Linked DNA regions of Homo sapiens. The protein of the gene in region 2 interacts with the protein of the main gene of each other region in a biochemical or structural test. Each region holds a gene or a part of one and is shown on either strand. Other genes may lie near its edges. The genes, in order: PRKCE, GNA12, CDH1, PRKCD, PRKCB, CDH15 and S1PR4.

What was found.
Region 1: of the proteins of GNA12 (region 2) and PRKCE, one has a biochemical effect on the other in vitro, tested with the Homo sapiens proteins (one study listed by BioGRID).
Region 3: the proteins of GNA12 (region 2) and CDH1 form a complex in vitro, tested with the Homo sapiens proteins (one study listed by BioGRID).
Region 4: of the proteins of GNA12 (region 2) and PRKCD, one has a biochemical effect on the other in vitro, tested with the Homo sapiens proteins (one study listed by BioGRID).
Region 5: of the proteins of GNA12 (region 2) and PRKCB, one has a biochemical effect on the other in vitro, tested with the Homo sapiens proteins (one study listed by BioGRID).
Region 6: the proteins of GNA12 (region 2) and CDH15 form a complex in vitro, tested with the Homo sapiens proteins (one study listed by BioGRID).
Region 7: the proteins of GNA12 (region 2) and S1PR4 form a complex in vitro, tested with the Homo sapiens proteins (one study listed by BioGRID).

Annotation. Positions count from the first base shown.
Region 1 is NC_000002.12:46,008,175-46,011,674, reverse strand, and holds part of PRKCE (protein kinase C epsilon type), read right to left. Parts: intron 1,360-3,500; coding exon of another isoform or gene 1,342-1,359; exon of another isoform or gene 1,332-1,341; coding exon 1,158-1,331; intron 992-1,157; coding exon of another isoform or gene 938-991; exon of another isoform or gene 1-937.
Region 2 is NC_000007.14:2,795,809-2,799,308, forward strand, and holds part of GNA12 (guanine nucleotide-binding protein subunit alpha-12), read right to left. Parts: intron 1-3,500. UniProt on the Homo sapiens protein: Guanine nucleotide-binding proteins (G proteins) are involved as modulators or transducers in various transmembrane signaling systems. Activates effector molecule RhoA by binding and activating RhoGEFs (ARHGEF12/LARG).
Region 3 is NC_000016.10:68,817,292-68,820,791, forward strand, and holds part of CDH1 (cadherin-1 isoform 1 preproprotein), read left to right. Parts: intron 1-1,988; coding exon 1,989-2,134; intron 2,135-3,500.
Region 4 is NC_000003.12:53,181,709-53,185,208, reverse strand, and holds part of PRKCD (protein kinase C delta type), read right to left. Parts: coding exon 3,477-3,500; intron 2,089-3,476; coding exon 2,003-2,088; intron 1,758-2,002; coding exon 1,628-1,757; intron 336-1,627; coding exon 235-335; intron 1-234.
Region 5 is NC_000016.10:24,181,983-24,185,482, reverse strand, and holds part of PRKCB (protein kinase C beta type), read right to left. Parts: intron 373-3,500; coding exon 292-372; intron 24-291; coding exon 1-23. UniProt on the Homo sapiens protein: Calcium-activated, phospholipid- and diacylglycerol (DAG)-dependent serine/threonine-protein kinase involved in various cellular processes such as regulation of the B-cell receptor (BCR) signalosome, oxidative stress-induced apoptosis, androgen receptor-dependent transcription regulation, insulin signaling and endothelial cells proliferation.
Region 6 is NC_000016.10:89,192,248-89,195,747, reverse strand, and holds the end of CDH15 (cadherin-15 preproprotein), read right to left. Parts: coding exon 3,304-3,500; intron 2,279-3,303; coding exon 2,142-2,278; intron 1,994-2,141; coding exon 1,835-1,993; intron 887-1,834; coding exon 593-886; 3' UTR 256-592; downstream 1-255. UniProt on the Homo sapiens protein: Cadherins are calcium-dependent cell adhesion proteins. They preferentially interact with themselves in a homophilic manner in connecting cells; cadherins may thus contribute to the sorting of heterogeneous cell types.
Region 7 is NC_000019.10:3,177,635-3,180,832, reverse strand, and holds S1PR4 (sphingosine 1-phosphate receptor 4 precursor), read right to left. Parts: upstream 2,065-3,198; 5' UTR 2,041-2,064; coding exon 886-2,040; 3' UTR 501-885; downstream 1-500. UniProt on the Homo sapiens protein: Receptor for the lysosphingolipid sphingosine 1-phosphate (S1P). S1P is a bioactive lysophospholipid that elicits diverse physiological effect on most types of cells and tissues. May be involved in cell migration processes that are specific for lymphocytes.

The DNA.
Region 1 (3,500 bases), on a different chromosome or scaffold from region 2:
TAATAAACATACGTGTGTTGAGACTAAGAGAGGTTACGTTTGCAGTGACTCCAACTATGGGTCACAGAGTCCTTTCTTCTTACAGCTGCTCAAGTGATTGGGGTTCTGAGAAATCCTCTCTGGGAAACGGTGTACCAAAGATAATGTAAACTCCATGAGGTCAGGGACTAGTCTAGTTCACCACTGTATCTCCAGCACCTGGCATGGCATCAGATACACGGGAAGGATATAATGAAATATAATAAAAGAAAAGTTTGCCAAATGACTCAATGAATAACTATTGAATTTTAAGTGGAAAAACTGGCATTCAAAATGACATGGAGATGAGAATACACCCAGAAGCAAGGTATCACCTCTCCATGATGTCACCCTCAGGGTCTGGGTTCCACATAAGCCACAGCTAGGAGTTTCAGGTGATGTCTGTCTTTGCCTTCTCAAGAAGCAAAATACTACAAACATCCATAATGATCCTAAAAGACTTTAACTCCTCCCAACCCCTCAAAAAGGATAACAAAATTAGAGCTTCATGAAGAACATTGCTGTTTCTTTACTAAAAACAGGTAACAAATTAGTTAATAATACTCGAGTCAGACTCTACCATGGAGTTATGGATTATCTTTGTTTCTTTACTGCCACCTTCTGGTTCCCAGACACCTATGCGGTAAATTAAAAATGCTGCCTTATATTTGTGTTTCACTATGAAATTTTAAGCATTTGTTCACATCCTTTATTTCAGATGACATTACACAGATTAGAAGAGATTAAGGTGGCCTTTACTCTTTTTCATATGACATGAAAATAACTTAGAAGTTAAGTGATTTGATTAGTGATAGAAAGTTAGGAGCAGAGCAAGGACTAACCACACTTGTTGGTTTTTCCAATGAGCAAACAGTGAGTTTAGCCATTTGGCTTTGTCCAACTCTGGCTGCAAAGAATTCTACAGCTCTCTCATCCCTTCACAAGCACAACCTTGAATGGAAAATCCTGTGCCCTAAAAAAGAAGATGCTGTTCAAATACATCCTGATCTTTTCAAGGGTAAAACCCATCCCACTTTACAAAGTCTTTGAGAGAACAATGTAGAGGGTCTAAAATTGGTATTTTATCTGATAGTCAAGATGCCCCAACATGGCAGCCAGCCAGCTTCTTCCTAACATACCTTGGTCTGGAAGCAGCAGTAGAGTTGGGTAAGGTACGGGTGTTTCCGTGCCAGAGCCAAAATCCTCTTCTCTGTCATTGTGCAGTCCACGTCATCATCCTGAAGGATGACGTCCTTCTTTAAGACCTTCACAGCATATACTTCATCTTTGCCCTTGAGTTCTGCCAACATGACCTGCAATCAATCAATTGCCTCCATCAATCTATGCATGTATGGAATAAAAAGAAGAAGTGTAAGCTAATACCAAATACTTCAAAAACGAATTCTGTTTTTTCTTTAATTTTAAATATTATAACAAGCCTGGTGTGGTGGCATGCACCCAAGATACTTGGGAGGCTGAGGTAGAAGGATCATTTGAGCCCAGGAGTTACAGATCAGCATGGGCAACATAGCAAGACCCCCTCTCAAGATGTATACATAATGTTTAAGAAAACTTCCTATTCTACAATTACTACCGTTCTACAGTTACTACATTCTAATAGTTACTACAATTTATTTATTTTTGATCTCTGGCACAATGCCCAGGCATAGAAAAGAGAAGTTCAATGCACATCTGTTGAATGGTTATTCATATGTTTATATGTGTTTGTCATACTTACAATTACAGTACACCAACTATTTTTACAGTTACAGTACAGTAAAATAATGTAACTATTTTTAACTGAACATTATCTTACAGACATTCTCCATATGGTCTCCATTATTATCACGGTTGCTTATACTCAATTCAAGTAAATATAATTTATTTAACCATTTCCCTCAAATTAGGCACTTCAGTTATATCTAATCATTAAGTATTATATAAGTTGCATTGAGTATTTTTGTACACAATTAAAACAATTTCTCTTGGATTACATTTGTAAGATGGAAACCCTCATAAGTAGATTAAAGGGTGAAGCATTTTGCACATTTCCTATTTTCAGAAAGGATGTGTGATACAATGTGCCACTAGCAATGTAGAAGTGTTGGAGTTTCATGGTGACTTACCAATACTGAGTAGTTTCACTTAAAAAGTATTTTTGCTCACTTAATAGGTGTGAAATGTTACCTTGATGCTATTTTTACTTAAAATGAAACTTTAAAATTAACTGTTTTCTGACTGTATTTCTTTTCGTGTAAATTATTCACGTCTCCTTTGTCTAATTATGCTGCTATCATATTAATTTCTTACAAATTTATACACATGTGATATATAAAGATACTAACCCTTTACTTTCTGTAAAAGGTTTTCTAAGCCTGTTTTATAATTTTCTGTTATTTTATTCTATTGAAAAGAATCATGTATCTTTATGTAGTTGAATCTGTCCTTGTTTGCCTTTATGGTTTCTTTTATAACTCTGAAGCTGGAAACGTGATTCCTTTTCAAGAGAGCTAATTAACAGTTCTATGTTCTTAAAGTGTTCCTATCATTTGATATTTTTGCACTCATTTACCTACAAACGTCACAAGCCTTTCTCTTCTTAAATAAGTAACTCCTAAGTACAGTATTCCAATGTAAGTCATCAAAGCTAAAAAGCAGCCATCAGAAACTTAATGAGGGAATTCATGATGTTAACCTGAAGACTTTTTGTCGCCCGCGTATTTTACAGACTCTTTAAAACTGGCTCAAACTTTGGCTGTGATTTTTCCTAAGAGATAACCTAAATGCTCCAAAGTCATCTAAGTTCCCATTCTGCCTACACTATATGAAAACCTAGAATCTCGGAGTCTTGCTCAAAATTAGACCACATCCTGTTCAGGTCCCAGAGTTATGCCTAACCAGAGGACCTCTTTTTATTTAGTCAGTCTCTAAAGAATGTAATTGCTTCAGCTTTTGCCATTTAAGTAAACCCCAGTTACCTTCCCACCAGAGTGGTATCAGGGTGAGATAGGGGCAGGTGAGACGGCTGGGAACCAGGTGGGATGGGCCAGCTGACTGACCTACAGGCTGCTGCTTTCAAGAGTCCAGGACATGCCAGGGCATGTGATCCCAGGAGCTTCCTGGTCCCCAGAGCAGGACCTCCCAGAACTTCTCAGGGGGTCCCAGAAAGGTGACTCCCAGGCTTAGCTCTGAACAGAACCAGGGAACAATCAGAGATCTCAGGTGAAATGCAAACAGCTTCCTCTGCTCCCTGCCCCTTCATCTTCTTTCTAAATGAACAGGAGTTAATTTTTCCATCTCACCCAGCCATCGGAATGGTGGCTGATCACCTTTAGTGCTTTATTGAGCATACTAAAGGCCACACCCCACACCACTGTGTTCATCTCAGTGGGAACAGGATATGGAGAATGGCACCAAGGGCAGAGGACCCTGATCCGAGGCATGAGATGATTATTCCCATTTTCTTGCCACGTGTAAAGGAT
Region 2 (3,500 bases):
AAAACAACTTTTTTTTTTTTTTTTTTCTTAGATGGAGTTTCACTCTTTTTGCCCTGGCCTGGAGTGCAATGGAGTGATCTCGGCTCACTGCAACCTCCGCCTCCCAGGTTCAAGCAATTCTCCTGCCTCAGCCTCCTAAGTAGCTAGGATTACAGGTACCTGCCACCAGGCCCGGCTAATTTTTTATTTTTAGCTGAGATTACAGACCACCACGGACTGCTAATTTTTGTATTTTTAGTAGAGAGGGGGGTTCCACCATGTTGTCCAGCCTGGTCTCGAACTCCTGACCTCAGCTGATCCGCCCGCCTCAGCCTCCCCGCCAAAAAAACAATGTTTTAACAACAACTATAGTAGCCTCCACCCCTTATCCGTGGCATAAGTTCCAAGACCCTCAGTGGATGTCTGAACGGTACCAAGCCCTACCTGTATTGTTTTTAAAGTTTAATTTAATTTATGAATTAGGCACAGTAAGAGATTAATAATAGCTAATAATAAAATACAACAATTATAACAATATACTGTCATGAAAGTTAAGTAAATATGGTCTCTCCTTCTGTCTCTCAAATGTGGTATCACCGTCCGCGCCTATTTTCCGTTGGCGGCTGGCTGTGGATAACGGGAGATGACTGTACTGCCAAGAGTACTACCAGCGCTACTATTGTCATCATCACTGAAATCTGGCAGCTCCTCTATTCCAAAAGATACAACTGCTTCTTCCAGCTTAAAACGGGTGGGAAAACATACAAATCCAGGCAGTCAGCAGTCATGAGACAGGAAAAGACTAAAATACGACAAGCCAAGTAGCCCGCCCACCAAAACGGGAGCCAGGGGATCATGTTCTAGATTTAACGTCACCATCGTTTGTGATGAGAAACTACTTTTCATTCTTTTGCTTGTTTCCTCATTGTTAAAGATAAAGTTAATGTTGTTCTGCCCCTTCTTACCTCATCAACAGGGTCAAAGGGATGAAGAAATAACTAACATAGTATTAGGGAATGCAGCCAGCCTTTGGAAAATATTCTCTCAGCAAAAACAGCACCCCCTGAGCAGTTAGGAGGTCTGTTCCACCATCCTTAGACTAATGTTTCGAAATCAGCAAGGCAGTGTTTATGAGAACTTCTGTGTTCTTCTGAGGGGCACACTGCATACTCTCTGGTATGGTCTACACTGGGGGTATACAGAGTGGTCAAGGGCCCTGAGAAGGCTATCAAGTACACATCTGTCCATCTGGAAAAGCCTTCTCATCTCAGAGCAATCTGAGGGACTCAGGCCAGCTGAGAGCAGCATCCCATCCTCCAGGACAGAGAAAACCAGGGTCACCTGCTCACTAGGCACTTATCTATGTTCCTTTTTTGGAGACTGGGTCTTGCTCTGTCACCCAGGCTGGAGTGCAGTGGCATGAACATGGCTCACTGCAATCTCGACCTTCTGGGCTCAAGTGATCCTTGCCCGTAGCCTCTCAAGGAGCTGGGACCACAGGCATGCCTCGTTACGCCCGGCTAATTTTAAGATTTTCGTAGAGTCAGGGTCTCACTATATTGCCCAGGCTAGTCTCAAACTCCTGAGCTCAACTGATCCTCTGGCCTTAGCCTTCCAAAGCACTAGGAATTACAGGTGTGAGCCACTGCATCCGGCCTTTTTTTTTTTTTCCTTTTTAAATAACAGTTTTACTGTGCTATAATCCATGTACCATATAACTCATCAATTTGAAGTGTACAACTTAATGATTTTTAGTTGGCACTTATCCTAAAAATCTTCATTTCTGACACCCAGGGCAGAGCAGATGAATCCATTCTGCCTCCTTCATCTCTCTCCTGCAGCATCAATTTGGTGCCTATAACTTCCACTTCTGCCTTGAACCACTGAGTCAGACGTAATGATGACCAAAGAGTAGTTGAAAGTCTCCTCCAGACCCAGCTGACCAGGACGGTCTGGTTAGAGATGCTCCCTGATTTTCCCCTCAGGACCTTGTCTGTCTGCCGTTGGAGACCATGCCTAGTTCTACCAATCCACAAACATTTGTTCAGTGTGTTTGTTTGTGGGGGAAACAAACTTTAAGAAGCAGTATCTGACCCCCAGAAACTCAGAGTCTGGCTAGAAAGACAAATGTATGGATAAAAAAAATACTTACCACCCACTCATGATTTTAAAAAACCTTTGCAAACTAGGAACAGAGAAATGCTTCAACTTGATAAAGAACACTGACAAAAAAACATACAGCTAACCTCATAATTAATGTGAAAGACTGAATGCTTTCCCTCCAACACTAGGAAAAGACAAAGATGCCTACTTCTGCTACTGCTATTCAACATGGTTCTGGAAGTTCTAGCCAGTGCGACAAGGTAGGAAAATGAAATAAAAGATCACACAGCTCAGGAAAAGCAGGGGGGAAAACAAATAGATTAGACACACAAAAAAAGAAAACACACAACTAAACCCATTTGCAGATAAAAAGATGATCTATGTTGAAAATCCCAAAGTAATCTACCAAAAAAACTCCTAGAATAAACAAATGAATCCAGAATAGTTGCAGGATATAATGTCAACACACGAAATTCAATTGTCTTTCTATATACTAGCAATGAACATGTGGAAAGTGAAATGAAAGATGTACTACTACTAACTATCACTAAAAAAACGAAACAGGTATAAATCTAACAAAATATGTGTAGGACTTATGTGCTGAAAACTGCAAAATGTTGAGGAAAGAAATTTTCAAAATCTAATAGATATACCACGGTCACGAATTAGAAGATTCAACACGGTACCAATATCCTTAAATTAATAAACAGGTTTAGCACAATTTCCATAAAATCCCAGCAGGATCTTTTGTAGATATAAATATGATTATTTGAAAATTTATATGAAAAAGCATTAAATTAGCTAAAGCAACTTTGAAAAAGAAAAGTGGGAACAATCAGTCTATCTGATTTTAAGACTTATTATATAGCTATGATAATCAAGACTGTGTGGTATTGGTGAGGTGACAGACCCACAGATCAATGGAACATAACAGAGAACCCAGGGATAGCCCCTGATACAGCTAGGTAATTTTTGTAAAAGTGCAAAAGCAATTAAAAAGAGGAAGCCTGGTCTTTTCAACAAACGCTGTTGGAGGAAGTGGACTTCCACAGGTAAAGAAAATTGGGGGGAGCGGGGGAGGGGGTGGGGAAGAACCTTGACCTAAACCTCACAGCTTATACAAAATCAAATCAAAATGTAGAACTATATATAACATAGGAGAATATCTTCAGGATGTAGGGTGTGCTCAAAGTTCTTAGATGTGACTCCAAATACATGATTCACACGAGAAAAATTATCAATAAATTGAACTTGATGAAAACGAAAATATTTTGCTCCGCCAAAGACCCTCTTAAGAGGCTGAAAAGAAGCTATGAACTGGGAGAAAATATTTGCCAACCACACATCTGCCATATCTGACAAAGGACTCATTTAGAATATACAAGGACATTCAAAACTCAACAGTTAGGCCAGGCACA
Region 3 (3,500 bases), on a different chromosome or scaffold from region 2:
ATGACAGGAGAGGAGGTGGCATGTTGCCACCATTTAGGAACTACTGTATTGTTTGGGGGAGCTGGTCTGCAGGAGTCTGCTTTTAAAAATAAATAAGGATTATAGTAATCATTGCTTCAGCAAGAATCATCCACAGATGCCAAATCCATTGGGTGAAAATTAGTTGCTGAACAAGATATTCTCAAATTATCTACCTGCAGATTATAGGTTAATCATGCAGTGAAAAAAGGCACCTTTGCTGTGAAGAAATCTGGTGGCCTTTCCCTTATCCAAGTGATCAAAGTTATCAATAGAAGCACAGACAGACATCATGTGCCTCCCAGTGTCCTGCACTAGGGAGGCCACAGCATCACCTCTGTCCTGTTCTTGCCCCCACCGACCCCTGAAATGGATTACCTGAATCTAAATTTTGAGGAATAATCAGACAAACCCAAGTTAAGGGGCATGCTACAAAACAACGGCCAGCACATTTCAAAAATGTCAGTGACAGAAAAGAAAGACCTAAGGAAGAGCCATGCCAACGAAAGGCCATATTGGATCCTGAATCCAGAAGGGTGCAAGGTTGCTATAAAGGACATTTTTGGAAAATCTGACAATTCGAATATGCACCATATATTCGACAATAGAATTCTATCAAAGTTTTGTTTCCTAAAATTGAAAATCAAGACTGGTCACGGTGGCTCACACCTGCAATCCCAGTGCTTTGGGAGGCCGAGATGGGTGGATCATCTGAGGTCAGGAGATCGAGACTATCCTGGCTAACATGGTGAAACCTCGTCTCTACTAAAAATACAAAAAATTAGCCGGGCGTGGTGGCGGGTGCCTGTAGACCCAGCTATTCAGGAGGCTGGGGCAGGAGAATGGCATGAACCTGGGAGGTGGAGCTTGCAGTGAGCTGAGATCACGCCACTGTACTCCAGCCTGGGCGACAGAACGAGACTCTGTCCCAAAAAAAAAAAAAAAGAAAAGAAAAAAAAAGAAAATCAAATTGGGGTTATATAACAGAATGCCTTTGTTCTTAGGAGATAACACATTGACATATTTATAAGTAAAGGAACATGACTTCTGCAATTTATTTGCAGATGGTTCAGCAGAACAAGAAATTATGTAGGCGTGTGTCAATATAGACAGAGCAGATGTGGCAAAGTATTAACAATGAGTAAACTCAGGTGAAGAGTTCATGGATGGTCATCATACTATTATAGTAACTTGTCTGTTGTATTGTTGGTTTTCTTGGTTTTCTTTTTTTTTTTTTTTTTTTAAAGACGGAGTTTCGGCCGGGCGCGGTGGCTCACGCCTGTAATCCCAGCACTTTGGGAGGCCGAGACGTGCGGATCATGAGGTCAGGAGATCGAGACCATCCTGGCTAAAACGGTGTAAACCGCGTCTCAACTAACAATACAAAAAAATTAGCCGGGCGTGATGGCGGGCGCCTCTAGTCCCAGCTACTCCGGAGGCTGAGGCAGAAGAATGGTGTGAACCCAGGAGGTGGAGCTTGCAGCGAGCCGACATCGCGCCACTGCACTCCAGCTTGGGCTACAGAGCAAGACTCCGTCTCAAAAAAAAAAAAAAAAAAAAAGAAAGAAAGGGTTTCACTTTTGTTGCCCAGGCTGGAGTGCAGTGGTGCAATCTCGGCTCACTGCAACCTCCATCTCCCAGGTTCAAACGATTCTCCTGCCTCACCCTCCCCAGTAGCTGGGATTACAGGCGTGTGCCACCACACCCAGCTAATTTTTGTATTTTTAGTAGAGACAGGGTTTCACCATGTTGACCAGGCTGGTCTCAAACCCCTGACCTCAGGTGATCTGCCCACCTCAGCCTCCCAAAGTGTTGGGATTACAGGCATGAGCCACCGCGACCGGCCTATTGTTGGTTTTCAAAATAAAAACGTTGGAAGTAACCATATAACTGAAGAAGCGCTTAAGCCGTTTTCAGCTACATGTTGTTTGCTGGTCCTATTCTAAAAGCCAGAGCTTGTCCCCGTTCAGATATCGGATTTGGAGAGACACTGCCAACTGGCTGGAGATTAATCCGGACACTGGTGCCATTTCCACTCGGGCTGAGCTGGACAGGGAGGATTTTGAGCACGTGAAGAACAGCACGTACACAGCCCTAATCATAGCTACAGACAATGGTAAGGGGGCCTCATCTGAGCCTTTGCTGCCTCGACCTCCTAGCTAGTTCAGTTCCTTGCCCCTCCCTTCTTTTGGAGGGAAGAGTTCATTCTTTTTCTTTTATCCTTTTTGTTTGCTGGATTGATTTGTATAAATGTATGGAGTACAAGGGTAATTTTGTTACATGCATAGATGTGTAGTGGTAAAGTCAGGGCTTTTAGGGTATCCGTCACCCAAATAACATGCATTGTACCCATTAAGTAATTGTTCATCATCTACCCCCTCCCACCCCTTGGACCCTTCCCAGCTGCCATTGTCTATCATTCCACAATCTACATCCATGTGTACACATTATCGAACTCCGACTTCTAAGTGAGAACATGCAGTATTTCTCCTTATATGTCTGATTCGTTTCACTTGAGACAATGGCCTCCAGTTTCATCCATGTTGCTGCAAAAGATTTCTCTTTTATTCTTAAACAAAGGCATTCTTATTATCAAAAATTCAAGTGGGCTGGGCACGGTGACTCACACCTGTAATCCCAGCACTTAGAGAGGCTGAGGTGGGAGGATCACTTGAGCCCAGGAGTTCAAGACCAGCCTGGGTAACATGGCAAAACCCTGTCTCTACAAAAAGTACATAAATTAGCTGAGTGTGTTGGTGAGCACCTGTAGGCCCAGCTACTCAGAAGGCTGAAGTGGTAGGATTGCTTGAGTCTGAAAGGTGGAGGCTGCAGTGAGCCAAGATTGCGCCACTGCTCTCCATCCTGGGCAACAGAGCAAGACTCTGTCTCCAAAAAAAAAATTGTTTTTTCAAGTAATTTTGGTCAAACAGAACTTACTTTTCACTACTCACTCTTTATTCCTTCCCTAAGGGAACCAGGTAATGATGGTTTACAATCCATTTCCAAAGCTTAATACTTGTGTGACCTTGGATTTGCTGTTTAATTTTTTTTTTTTTTTTGAGACAGAGTCTTGCTCTGTCACCCAGGCTGGAGTGCAGTGGTGCAATCTTGGCTCACTGCAGCTTCCGCCTCCCAGGTTCAAGCAATTGTCCTACCTCAGCCTCCCAAGTAGCTGGGATTACAGGTGTGCACCACCACGCCCAGCTAATTTTTTGTATTTTTAGTAGAAACGGGGTTTCACCATATTGGCCAAGCTGGTCTTGAACTCCTGACCTTGTGATCTGCCCACCTTGGCCTCCCAGAGTGCTGGGATTACAGGTGTGAGCCACCGTGCCTGGCCTGCTGTTTAATTTTTATGTCCCTCAATTCCTTTACCTGAAAAATGTTAATACCCATGTGGGTGAAATTAGTTAGGTGTTAAATCAGTTAGGTGTGGGTCCTTCCAGACTGCTTCTGTGTATTTAAATACATTTATAGGCTGG
Region 4 (3,500 bases), on a different chromosome or scaffold from region 2:
ACTCCTGTGGTCCCCAGGTTCACCCTCAAGTAAAGAACTGCCTGAATAATGAATTTCTTATGAAAAAAAGCCCCCCTCCCTCTGCTGCCTAAATTCTTGAGTTGCATCTTCCCGAAGTAGAGTCCTGGGTCTAAATATATCCTGGCTGTCTGTGGCTCCCCAGCAGTGGCTGTAAGCCTTGACTGTCCCTGACCCCACTGCCCTGTGTCCAGGGTCCCCATGGCACCTGCCCACCTGGGTGACTTGGTTCAAGGCCTCAGCCAAAAGCTTCTGGTTGATGCCGCAGAGGTTGGCCACCTTCTCCCGGCATTTATGGTGCACATTCATGCCGCAGTCTGGGGTGAGGGAGAAGCGGGGCTGTCAGTCTCAGAGCTCAGCCAAGGGCAGGGGGCAGTGTAGGAGAGGCGCAGGAGAGCAAGAGAAAGGAGGGCTTCAGTGGGGTCTGCTGGGTTCCAGTTTCTAGGAAAACATTGATCTGAAGCCATCATAAATACTTCGATCTCTCTCTCTCTCTCTCTTTTTTTTTTTTTTTTGAGATGGAGTTTCCCTCTTATTGCCCAGGCTGGAGTGCAGTGGCGCAATCTCGGCTCACCGCAACCTCTGCCTCCTGGGTTCAAGGGATTCTCCTGCCTCAGCCTCCTGAGTAGCTGGGATTACAGGCATGCGCCACCATATCCGGCTAATTTTGTATTTTTAGTAGAGACGGGGTTTTTCCATGTTAGCCAGGCTGGTCTCGAACTCCCCACCTCAGGTGATCCACCTGCCTCGGCCTCCCAAAGTGCTGGGATTACAGGTGTGAGCCACCACGCCCGGCCAAGCATTTCAATCTTTCATGATTTTTGTTGTTGTTGTTGTTGTTGTTGTTGTTGTTGTTGAGACGGAGTCTCACTCTGTCACCCAGGCTGGAGTACAGTGACATGATTTCGGCTCACTGCAAGCTCTGCCTCCTGGGTTCACGCCATTCTCCTGCCTCAGCCTCCCGAGCAGCTGGGACTACAGGCGCCCGCCACCACGCCAGGCTAATTTTTTTGTATTTTTTTAGTAGAGACAGGGTTTCACCATGTTAGCCAGGATGGTCTCGATCTCCTAACCTCATGATCCGCCCGCCTCGGCCTCCCAAAGTGCTGGGATTACAGACGTGAGCCACCGCGCCCAGCCAATCTTTCATGATTTAAAGAAAAAGGAAAAACCAGAAGACAGGGACCTAATTCGAAACCCTTTAAAGAACATCTGGTCAACTTAAGCCGCTTTCCCTCCAGGGTCTTCTGTCTCATCTCTAAGTGAAGCAGAGGGCAGGGGAGGCCTGTCTGGGCGCCTGTCGGTGTGCACCAGGCCTGGCTTCAGCACCCTCTGCCCACTGGCCCCTCACAGGGACTCTCTAGGTCCTGCTTTTCTCCTCCAAATGGCTCAGAGGGGTGGAGCCGCCCACCTGTGGTCACACAGCAGGTAAGTGGCAGAGCCAGTCAGGCCAGTGGGGAGGGTCCACCAAGGCCTCACCCTCATCAGGTCCCTGAATGAGGTGCCCGTCTCCAGGTGAGGAGGCGAGGGTGGCGTGAGGTGGCTGGAATTCACAGCAGCACCAGCTGGGAGTGCCCCTCCTGCAGCCCAGGGGCGGGGTGGCACGCACCTTCACACTTTAATCCCTGCTTCACCAGTCCCCAGAGCAGGCTGCCGCAGTGGTCACAGAAGGTGGGGCTCATGTAGTTGTGAACCTTGAAGCGGTGCGGCATGTCGATGTTGAAGCGTTCTTTCTGGAACTGGAGGTGGGGGTATCACAGGCTGAGGGTCACGTGCCAGCTCCAGCCTCTTCTTCAACCCCTAGCTCTCCCCCAACCCTGGGCACAACAACATCCCAAGAGAGCTCCACTGGGAGAGGCAAGGAAAGACTAAGAAAAATGGGGAGGGAGGGTAAGCTCCCCAGGGAGGGTGGGGAGAGGGTGCAAATCCCTCCCATCTGGCCAAGCCCCCCAGATCCCCAGCCCTGCCCCGGACCCAGGCTCACTATAGTGTCCCGGCTGTTGGCCGCGGTGCCAGTGCATCTGCCGATGATCTTGTCGATGCATTTCTTGTGGATGGCAGCGTTACATTCTTGAAGAGGCACAGGCCCAGGAGGGGGAAGGGAAAGCACCGGGAGGGGCAGAGTCTATGAGCTGGTGCCTGCCGACCAGTCTAGCCCTCTACACAAAGCCACCGTTCTCCTGACCGCCCACACCCTCACCCCGCAGAGGCCCAGCGCTTGAGTCTTCCTCCTGCCAGCCCTCGAAGGAGGAGCCTGGAGAGGACGGGGCGGAGAGGACAGGCCAATCTGCAGGGGCTTAGAAAGAAGGAGTCCTAGTGGGCAGGGAGGTGGGCAGAAGTTAGCGGGCACAGGGCATCGCAATATGAGAAGCGGGGGCAGTTCTTCCAAGCCCTGGGATAGCAAACGGCTCCTAAATGCCCTCTCTTACACATGCACATGGACACGCCTCAAAACAGACACCTGTACATACACACAAAGCATGTGTAATAATGATAACAGACTTCTTACACAGAGCGGCTACCAGTGGAAGGCACTTAAAATACAGCTTTACATATCTTATTCCATTTGATCTTCACAATGACCCTATTATACATTATAGTTATATCTAATTTATAGATGAGGGCCAGGCACGATGGCTCACGCCTATAATCCCAGCACTTTGGGAGGCTGAGGTGGGTGAGTCACTTGAGGTCAGGAGTTTGAGACCAGCCTGGCCAACATGACAAAGCCCCTATTCTACTAAAAATACAAAAATTAGCCGGGCATGGTGGTGCACGCCTGTAATCCCAGCTACTCAGGAGGCTAAGGCAAGAGAATCGCTTGAACCTTGGAGAGGGAGGTTACAGTGAGCTGAGATCGCACAACTGCACTCTAGCTTGGGCAACAGAATGAGACTCAGTCTCAAAAAAAAAAAAATTATAGATGAGGAAACTGAGGCACAGAGAGGTTAAGTAACTTTGCCTAAGGCCCTATAGCTAGGAAGTGGTAGAGCTGGGATTCAAACCCAGGCAGTCTGACTCCAGCCTGCGGCGCCTCGTGTATACACCCTCAGGGACAGAGTGTGCTCACACCTGTGTACTCAGAGACACCCACATCTACACAGAAGCACATGCAGCCACTATGTGCCAGTAAAGGACCTATCATTGCCTCTCCGAGGAAAAGAGGCCTGGTGCATGGCCTGGGCTGGTTTCTGCGTGAATACTCTACTGTGCCCAATTGCCATCCACCAACTCCCCGTCACTGAATGCGGAGCTGGGAAGAGATGCGCAGAACTGGTTTTCCAGAGCAGCAGCAAGCCAGCCCCAGCACTCACTGAACTCAGCTGCTGTATCTACACTGGGAAAACTCACGTGCATACACTCTCTGAGCGCACACAGGCACTGGCATACACACAGGCACTGGCACACGTGAGCACACATGGGTACATACGTACAAACTGGCCTGTGGAGACACTTACGCCTGCATTTGTAGCCTTGCTTGT
Region 5 (3,500 bases), on a different chromosome or scaffold from region 2:
TCATCCTCCCCTTCAAAGGGTGCCTGTATGACAGGGGAGGGTGGGAGGAGAAGAATCCCTGCTTGAACCCTCCCCCTAGCTCCCCTCAACTGGCAGACCCTCCTCCCTGGGGCCCACAGTGAAGCCACACACCCAGGCTTTCAAATGACCACAGACTTGTATGACCCCAAGGCCGGGAAAGTCATAGAGGTTCCAATTTATGAGCTGTTACCAAACATGCATTCTCCTAAAGAAACCATGTGGATGGGGGTAGGGAGGACTTCTCTTATCGATCACTTAAAATTCAATTACCTGCCCAGCCAACATTTCATACAGCAGGACTCCAAATGCCCACCAATCCACGGACTTCCCATAGGGCTGATAAGCAATTATCTAGAAAAGAGAAGGCACCCTATCAGGGAGGTTTGCAGTTCATGTTTCTTCTGGAGACAGATTTCACTCTTCTTTTACAAGAAGGCCAGTGCCCACCTGAACTGTTTCTTTATATTAGCTATTCAGGGAATGACAGACATGCTTTGCAGAGGCACCTGCAGCTGGGCAAACACCTGTGGCTGTCACATTGCCTTTTCGAAGCACTAAGTAAGGTGTATTGTTATTATTATTTTCAAAACAGTGAGCATGGAATTTTTAAAAGGAAAAACTGTCTTTACTCCTCTGTAAAAGTTACAACATTTACACAATAATGTAAATATACTTAACACTACTAAATTGTATACTTAGAACTGGTTAAAATAGTAAATTTTACGTTACATGTTTTTAAAACATAATTAAACATAAAAACGTTTAAGAGATAACAACATTTGTCACTATTTTAATATTTCTTTATAAAAGATAGCTCAGCTGAGATAATAACATGAAAATCACCCATAATCCTTTATTAAGAGAAAAATTATGACTAATATTTGGTCTACTTCATTCCATACTCTTTTCTCTGAATACATATTAAACTCTGTGTGTATGTGTGTGCTTTACATAAACACTTTAGTATTTGGACGATTTTTTTTCTTTTTTTCTTTTCTTTTTTTTTTGAGATAGTGTCTCTTTTTGTCACCCAGGCTGGAGTGCAGTGGTGAGATCATAGCTCACAGCTCACAGCCTTGGCCTCCTGGGCTCAAGCAATCCTCGCACCTCAGCCTCCTGTGTAGTTGGGACTACAGGTGCTCACCACCATGCTAATTATTTAATTTTTTGTAGGGATGGGGTCTCTCTATATTGCCCAGACTGATCTCAAACTCAAGCAAAGCTCCCATCTTGGCCTCCCAAAGCACTGGGATTATGGGCAATAGATCTTTAATAAAGCCAGTTATTCACTTAAGTTTTCCTTGCTAATTTAATATTTGTATATGAACATAATCAATTTTTATCTGTGCATAGCATTCCGTTGAATGGATATACCAAAATCTATCTTATAAATTTCCAGTTGATTAGGTTTCTTCCAATGCTGTAACATATATTCTTGTAATTAGACATTTGGACATCTGTCCAAGTATTTCCTTAAGATAAACTCCTAGATGTAGAATTGGTGTATCATATGGTATATATGGTTGTGAAGTTTTTAATTCATATTCCCAAACTGCAAGAACATGGAAAAGTCTAGAAGAGCTATGTGATTGTCCATCTTTCAGTATGCAGGGATGTAAAACTAACCATGTCAGAGGTTAAGAGGTAATACAGCAAAGGCTAAAGGCTGAGGTCTGAGGGTTAGGCAGTCTGACTTTGAATCCTGACTGCTGTCTACCGGTTGGCTGTCTGACCACAGGAGAAGTTACTTAACTTCTATAATCTCTATATCATGAAGTTATGTGAGGATGAATGAGATACTCGGTGGCTTTCACATATTATGCCCTCAAAATGTTAACTAATCCTAGAATGTTTTATAATTCAGTTATTGCTTGTTTAACTCAAAAAGGGTATTTGAGCAAACTTGGCTATAAAGTGAATGTTTGTTTCTTGATCTCTATCTCCCACTTTGATTTCTATTCCAAAATCAGAAATGCAGAGATGTTGATTACAGGATACAAAATTTCAGTTAAGTAGCAGGAATAAATTCAAGAGACTTATCGTGTAACACAGTAACCATAGTTAATAACAATCTATTGTATTCTTGAAAATTGCTAAGAGGGATTTTTAAGTGTTTTTACCATAAAAAAATAAGTATGTGAGACAATAAATATGTTAATTAACTCAACTTAGCCATTCCACAATGTATGCATATTTCAGAACAACATGTTGCACATGATAAATGTATACAATTTTACTGGTCAATTATGAATGAATGAAATGCATTCTGAGAAGTAACCCTCAAGACAAGGAAGGGAAAGCATTCCAGGAGAACACTTCTCATTGAACGTGTTTTCCACTTTGGGAGGCCGAGGCGGGCGGATCACGAGGTCAGGAGATCGCGACCATCCTGGCTAACACGGTGAAACCCCGTCTCTACTAAAAAAATACAAAAAAAATTAGCTGGGCGTGGTGATGGGCACCTGTAGTCCCAGCTACTCGGGAGGCTGAGGCAGGAGAATGGCATGAATCCAGGAGGCAGAGCTTGCAGTGAGTAGACAGAGTGAGACCCTGTCTCAAACACACACACACACACACACACACACACAAGAAACAATGTGGGATGCCCAAGCATCATCCCATTAGAATCTCTGCAGGTGGAGGCCCAGGATCTGTGGTTCTCAGAAGTTCCTCGCTGGTCGTGATTCAGGCAAGCACAAGAAACCCTCAACTGTGTGGCTGGTGAAGTTGCCTCCCCTCCAGCCCACAGATGGGAGGGATAAGCAGCAGGTCAGGCTTTGTCATGAGCTAACCACATCACCTTCGGCAACTGCTGTCACATCCCAGGCTCTAGTTTCCTTTGTAAAAGGATTAACTTGTTGGCTTGTCATGAGGATCAAATAAGACTTGAAGTACTTTAAAAGTGTGGAAACACTTTCTTTCTTTCTTTCTTTCTTTTTTTGAGACAGAGTCTCGCTCAGTCGCCCAGGGTGGGGTGCAGTGGCATGATCACTGCTTACTGCAGCCTCTACCTGCTGGGCTCAAGTGATCCTCCCACCTTAGCCTCCTGAGTAGTCAGGACAGCAGGGGTGACCTAGTGCACCTGGCGAATTTTTAATTTTTTTTGTAGAGATTAGGGTCTCACTATGTTGTCCAGTCTGGTCTCAAACTTCTACCCTCAAGCGATCTTCTTGCCTCAGGCTCCCAAAGTGCTGAGATTACAGGAGTGAGCCACCATGCCCCAGCTGCATCCTACATTGTAAAAGCTCCCTCACGACTCTAAACTGCAGTTAGAGTTGAGAACCAGAGATTATGGAACCCCTGGCCTATCAGGAAGTTGTGTTATGGATTGTGTCCTATCTAATTAATTAACAAAATGATAATAGACCAAAGCATATCACATAGGGAAAACTTCACTGGGTCCGAGTAAAGCCTTATTATTTTTAAAGAATTACTTTATTACTCAAGTAATACCCAAATACATTTACCTTGTAAAAAAT
Region 6 (3,500 bases), on a different chromosome or scaffold from region 2:
CTGGTTCTTCCCTCAGGCCACACCTGGGGCCTGGAAGGGTCTCACCTGTGCCTGCTCCCCACCTCTGGGCTCACCAGCAAGGAGCCAGGGTGTCAGCGGCTGCTCCATAGCCCCTGTCCAGGTAGTGGCAGCCCCCGGCCGCCTCCTGCCCCAGCCAAGCAGGGTGGTATGGGGGCCTGGCCCTCAGGTCCCTGCCAGGCCAGGCCTCACTGGCCCCATCCCCCTCATGGTCAGTGTGGCAGTGGGCGCCCGTCCTGCATGAAAGAGACTAGCACGTTTTTCATTCAGATTTACCCAGGAGGTTGCTGTCTTTCATACAAAGATGAGGTTCACTGGTAGGAGGCAAAGGTGGGACTAGGGAGGTGACCCGCATGGGGCCGATGGAGAGAAACTCTTCCCACCCCGGCAGGAAGGGGCCTCTTCCTGGCCGCCCCATCCACACTCAGGTTCTGCCCCCAGACTTGGGCCCTCGCCTACAGGAAGGAGGCTGCCCCAGGCCCAGGGGGGTCGGGCCCGGTGACCTCAGGCTGCCTCTGCAGGGGCCATCACTGCCACGAGGCCGGGGAGTGGCATGTCCAGTTGCGCCCCAGGGTCAGGCTGTCCGGCCTCTGTGTCTGGGTAGCAGTGCCCCAGGAGAAAGACCCTCCCTGGCCTGGTGGTCCCATCTGGCCCCGTACTCCAACCCGCACGGGTGCCCATACATGTCTGCCAGCCGGGCGAAGCGGGGCCCCCAGTCTCTGAGGTAGTCGTAGTCCTGGTCCTCATCGCCCTGGCTGGACAGGATGGAGCTCAGCGTCCCCGCCACCGAGCCGTCACCCTCGTAGTCATAGATGAGGGCTGTGTCGTAAGGCGGCACACTGGGGTCACTATCTGCAGCCTCCAAGCCCTATAAAGAGGCCCGGAGAGCTCAAGACACATGGAGGGGCCAGCGGGTGCCCCACCGCCGTGGCCACAGCCCAGGGCAAAGTCAGCTCAAGGCACGGGCTCAGGAAGGGGAAGCTGCCCACGTCCGGGGGCGAGGTCTGAGGGGAGGCAAAGCGTCCTGAGGGCACAGCAGCAGGGTTGTGAAGAGGGTGCCACGGACTACCCCCTTCCTCAGTATTAGGCCAGCGGCCAGCCCGTCCCCCGGGGCTCTGCCCTGCCCCAGCAAGGTGGGAAGGGGTTGCTCCCCCTCACCCTGGTCTCTTCCTCCCCGTGGCCCTTGTCCACTCAAGGCAGAACCCGAGCCTCCTGGACACCCCCATCCGCAGAACGGCCCGTCTGCCTTTCGGAGGCTCTGTCTGCATGTCTGTCCTCTCAGCTCGTGGGGACACACGCTCCTAACCGGGGGTGTACACCTTGGCTGGGGGCTTTCTCTGAGCCAGGTGCTACAGGTGCAGACAGGCACAGAGGAGGGTTCCCTGTGCGCCCCACACCCCAGATTCCCCGTGTGCACATTCATCCTGTGGATGGCAGGGAATCATTAACGCTGTGTCCAGAGGGTCTTCTATGGAGGCCCTGATTCCGCTGACAGCCACCGAAGCCCAGGGGATGCTCCCGGGGCTCCCCCACCCCCTCCATGGTGGACACGGGGCAGTGGATGGGTCTGTGGCCATCGCCACTCCATCTGTGCAAAGACCCGCGTCGCGGGTGGAGGCTGAGGGCCCAGTTTGGACGGTGGCAGCGGGGCTTCCACACTCCCGCCCGCACACCATCTTCCTCTGCGGTGCTCTGGGACGGCCCATAAGTGCATGCAGGCGCCGGTTCTTGCATGCATGTGCAGGTGTGTACATGTGCATGTGTGTGTGCACCTGTGCGTGCCTGTGTGTACTGGGGTGTCCCCAGGAGCACCTACATCATTGATGAAGTCGGCGATGTCCAGGGGGCTGGTGGGCAGCACTCGGGGTGGCTGGGGGTGCAGGCGGCCCTGCGGGGCATCTCTGCGAAGTGGCGGCGGTCCCAGAGGCAGGCTCAGCGCTGTCGGGTGACGCAGCTGGCTGATGTCGTAGGCGTCCTGTGGGCGAGGAGGTGGAACAGAGCCAGGCATCCCTCGGGTGGCCCTGGTGGAGGTCTCAGGTACAGGCTCCTGGCCAGCTTGTTGTAAGAAGGCCCGCGACCTGGGTTCCTTGGGGACCCCTCCCCACCCACACCTGCCCCCTCACCTGGTCCTCCTCCCCGCCTCCTTGCTCATCGTAGTTGAGGACATTGTCTCGAAGGTCGTCCTGGGGGCCGTGCAGCAGCCCCTTGCCCCGAGACTGCTTCCAGAACCGCGCCCGGAGTGCCACGAGCAGGACCAGCACTGGGGAATGAGGGGACGCAGGCTGGGGCCAGGCACAGGGCGCGACTTCAGGGGGCCGGGCTGCGAAGGAGGTGGGAGGAGGGGGCGGGGCGGGGCAAGGCTGGTAAGCAGGGGTGGGGTTGAGGGGGCGGCAGTTGGGGAAAGGGCGTGTCTGGCATGGAGGAGCCGGGGTTGGGGAGGAAGCCGCGAGGTTAGGGAGGAGGGGGCCGGGTTGTGGAGGAGGGAGCTTGGCTGGTAAGGAGAGGCCGGCTTGGGGAAGAGGCGTGGCTGGCAACGAGGGGGCGGGGTTTGCGAGCAGGGGGCGGGTTGGGTGGAAGCGGCGTGGCTGGTAATGAGTGGGTGGTGTTGGGGAGGAGGCGGCAGTGGAGAAGGGGCGTGGCTGGTAATGAGGGGGCGGGGTTAGGGAGGAGGCGGAGCTGGGGAGGAAGGGGCGTGGCTAGTAATGAGGGGGCGGGGTTGGCGAGCAGGGGGCGGGTTGGGTGGAAGCGGCGTGGCTGGTAATGAGTGGGTGGTGTTGCGGAGGAGGTGGAACTGGGGAGGAAGGGGCGTGGCTGGTACTGAGGGGGCGGGGTTACGGAGGAGGAGGAGCTGGGGAGGAAGCGGCGTGGCTGGTACTGAGGGGCGGGGTTAGGGAGGAGGAGGAGCTGGGGAGGAAGCGGCGAGGCTGGTAATGAGGGGGCGGGGTTAGGGAGGAGGCGGAGCTGGGGAGGAAGCGGCGAGGCTGGTAATGAGGGGGCGGGGTTAGGGAGGAGGCGGAGCTGGGGAGGAAGCGGCGTGGCTGGTAATGAGGGGGCGGGGTTAGGGAGGAGGCGGAGCTGGGGAGGAAGCGGCGTGGCTGGTAATGACGGGGCGGGGTTAGGGAGGAGGCGGAGCTGGGGAGGAAGCGGCGTGGCTGGTAATGAGGGGGCGGGGTTAGGGAGGAGGCGGAGCTGGGGAGGAAGCGGCGTGGCTGGTTAGCAGGGGACGGCCTGGGGAGGAGGGTCCGAGGGTCCGAGGGTCCAGGTGGAGGCGGGGCGCTCACTCACCCAGCAGCAGGAGGGCGCTGGCCAGCACGATGACCAGTGCGCCCAGGCTGAGGCCTGTGCCCCCCGCCAGCAGCGCTGCGGCCCCCGGCAGGCAGACGCCGTCCTTGCCGCAGCGGCACACGGTCACGTTCAGAGGCTGCTCGCGCTGCTGGGGCGGCTGCCCCGAGTCCCGGAGCAGCAGGCTGAGGCGGTGCAGG
Region 7 (3,198 bases), on a different chromosome or scaffold from region 2:
CCACTGGAGTTTCACGGGGCAGGCAGTTGTCAGCCCCTGTGGCTGGCGGGGAGCGTGTACAATCAACCCTGTGCTTCGGCTTCAGTGATTAAACTGTTTTACCCACCGGGAAAGCCGAGGCCGTTCATGCTGAAGGGGATGTGAGGGAAGATTCCCCCAGCCCAGGAAGCCAAGGTGGTGCCTCTGCCAGCCCCAGAGAGTGGGTCCCCAAAAGATGCAGAGGCCAGAGATGGGGCATGGGCCCTGCCATTTCTAAAGGGGAAGTGAACAAGAAGAGGCGGCATTAACTGTCATTGTCACCCCCACTTCCCGCAACGCCCAGAGGTTGTCCACACACACACACACACACACACACACACACACACACTCCACCCTCACAGGGCACTGGCCCGTGGCCCTCTCTAGCAAAGACACACCCGGCTGCCCCTAGATCCACAGCCCCCCTGAGCCACGGCCCCCACGCATGCACGCACCAGGGAATAAGAGGCCGCAACATCACGTACCATGATCGAACTTCAATGTTGCCAGGGCATGCATCCCACAGTCCACCCCTTGCAGCCTGGGAGCCCTACTGAGGCCCAGAGAGGGGCCGGGACTTCCCCAGAATCACACAGAAGCGGGGTTGTGGGGAACCCACTCGCCCCCACACCAGGGTGCTCTCTGCTCCTACGGGGAGGTGGGGTGGTTGCCTCCTTGTCCAGGGTGACCATGGGAAGCCCATTTGGCGTCAGAAGCCCCGAGAGGCCACCGGGAAGACCATGGGGGCCTGTCCCGTTCCCTGCTCCCCATACAGGCGAGGCTGCGTGCACACAGCTTCCTGTACCCCAGGAGGGCCTGCCTGGCACGCACCCGGTGGCTGCACCATCCACACGCAAGACTGCAACTTCAGATGCTCCGCACGCTGGAGATGCTGGACAGGGGCTCCCGCATCCGAAAGCTGAGCGAGCGGGAGCCGCGAAAGCTGTCCCTTGGCCTCAGAGAGCTGTCGGTGGTGGAAGCTCCGGAGTGAGCCTCGACGGCCCGGGCCAGGCAGTCCCCGGGCCCTCGCATGCCCAGCCGGAGACACCCGCAGCAGAGGAAGCTGAGCACGGCTCTGCACACCTCCCTGCTGCGGAAGGAGTAGATGATGGGGTTGACCGCCGAGTTGAGGACGGCCAGGGCCAGGATCCAGTCCATGCCCCGCAGGTACTCCTGGGCCCAGAGGTTGGAGCCAAAGACGTCGGCCAGCAGCAGCCCGAAGAGTGGGCCCCAGCACACCAGGAAGGCCAGCAGGATCATCAGCACCGTCTTCAGCAGGCGGCGGGCCTTGCGGCGGGCCGCTGGGCGTGGGGCCTTCTGCCCGCTGGCCTGCACCAGGCGGAAGATGGCCCCATAGAGGCCCATGATGGTGGCCAGGACGCCGGCGAAGATCACCAGGCAGAAGAGGATGTAGCGCTTGGAGTAGAGGGGCAGAAGGCTGGAGCAGCGGTCAAAGGCGCACAGGCAGTTCCAGCCCAGCAAAGGCAGCATCCCCAGCAGCGCGGCCAGCAGCCAGCAGAGGCCGATGAAGCCGTAGACGCGGCTGGTCTTGGTGGCCCCGCTCTCGGCCACCGGCCGCACCATGGTGGCAAAGCGCTCCCCTGCAGTGAAGAGCAGGCTGAAGGTGGAGGCGGCCAGGGCGGTGAAGAGCAGGCCCTCCCGTAGGAACCACTGGGCGGGCGCCAGACGGAAGGTGCGGGCCCCCGACAGCAGCACGTTGGCCAGGTAGGCCGCGCCCGTGAGCAGGTCACTCAGCGTGATGTTCACCAGGCAATAGTAGACCCAGCGTCGCGACCGCATGTGGCTGGTGATGGCCGCCAGCACCAGCAAGTTCTCCAGCACCACCAGGCAGCTGGCGGCCACCGACAGCCCCCGCAGGGCCCCCAGGCCGCCATCCTCCGGCCCCCCGCGCCCGGCCAGCCGGCCCGAGTGGTTGTAGTGCAGAACAATGAGCCGGCTGTGCCCGCCGGCCGCCAGCTGTTGGCAGGACTCGGGGGCCACCGGGGTCCCCGTGGCGTTCATGGCCTCCCCCGGGGGCTGACTGAGGCCCGACGCAGGGTGGAGCCACCCGCCTTGCTGGTCTTGGTTTCCTGTTATTTGAAATTTCCTGTTATGTTCAAGGTGCCCTCCAGGGTGGAGGTAAGGCCGAGGACAGGGAGGGGCACCCCAACGGTCGGCCCCCACCCGGGCTCCTGGAGCCAACGCGCTGGGGCTGCCCTGGCTGTGAGGACCCCCACCCCTGCCCTGGCTGCCTTCTTCCTGTCCTCGAAAGCCGGAGACCCGCAGGGAGCCCCGGAGCCGTCAGTCACGGAGGGGAAATGAGTCCCCACTCGGGATGGGCCACCCCTTTCCAGCCGGACGACTCCTCCCCACCAGCCCTGATCACCCCCGAAGCACCCGTCGGCTCCACTGAGGTCTCCCCACATGCTCCACCGGCGCTCAGCACACAGCAGGTGCCTAATAAATGTCAAGTGCCTGCATGCCCTTGAGCACTGACTCATCCGACTTGATCCCCGAAACAGGGCCTGATGCGTTACAGAAGAGGAAACTGAGGCCCAGAGAGCCCGGTGCGTTGCAGAAGGGGAAACTGAGGCCCAGAGAGCCCGATGCGTTGCAGAAGGGGAAACTGAGGCCCAGAGAGCCCGATGCGTTGCAGAAGGGGAAACTGAGGCCCAGAGAGCCCGAGGCGTTGCAGAAGGGGAAACTGAGGCCCAGAGAGCCCGAGGCGTTGCAGAAGGGGAAACTGAGGCCCAGAGAGCCCGATGCGTTGCAGAAGGGGAAACTGAGGCCCAGAGAGCCCGATGCGTTGCAGAAGGGGAAACTGAGGCCCAGAGAGCCCGATGCGTTGCAGAAGGGGAAACTGAGGCCCAGAGAGCCCGAGGCGTTGCAGAAGGGGAAACTGAGGCCCAGAGAGCCCGAGGCGTTGCAGAAGGGGAAACTGAGGCCCAGAGAGCCCGATGCGTTGCAGAAGGGGAAACTGAGGCCCAGAGAGCCCGAGGCGTTGCAGAAGGGGAAACTGAGGCCCAGAGAGCCCGATGCGTTGCAGAAGGGGAAACTGAGGCCCAGAGAGCCCGATGCGTTGCAGAAGGGGAAACTGAGGCCCAGAGAGCCCGATGCGTTGCAGAAGGGGAAACTGAGGCCCAGAGAGCCTGATGCGTTACAGAAGGGAAAACTGAGGCC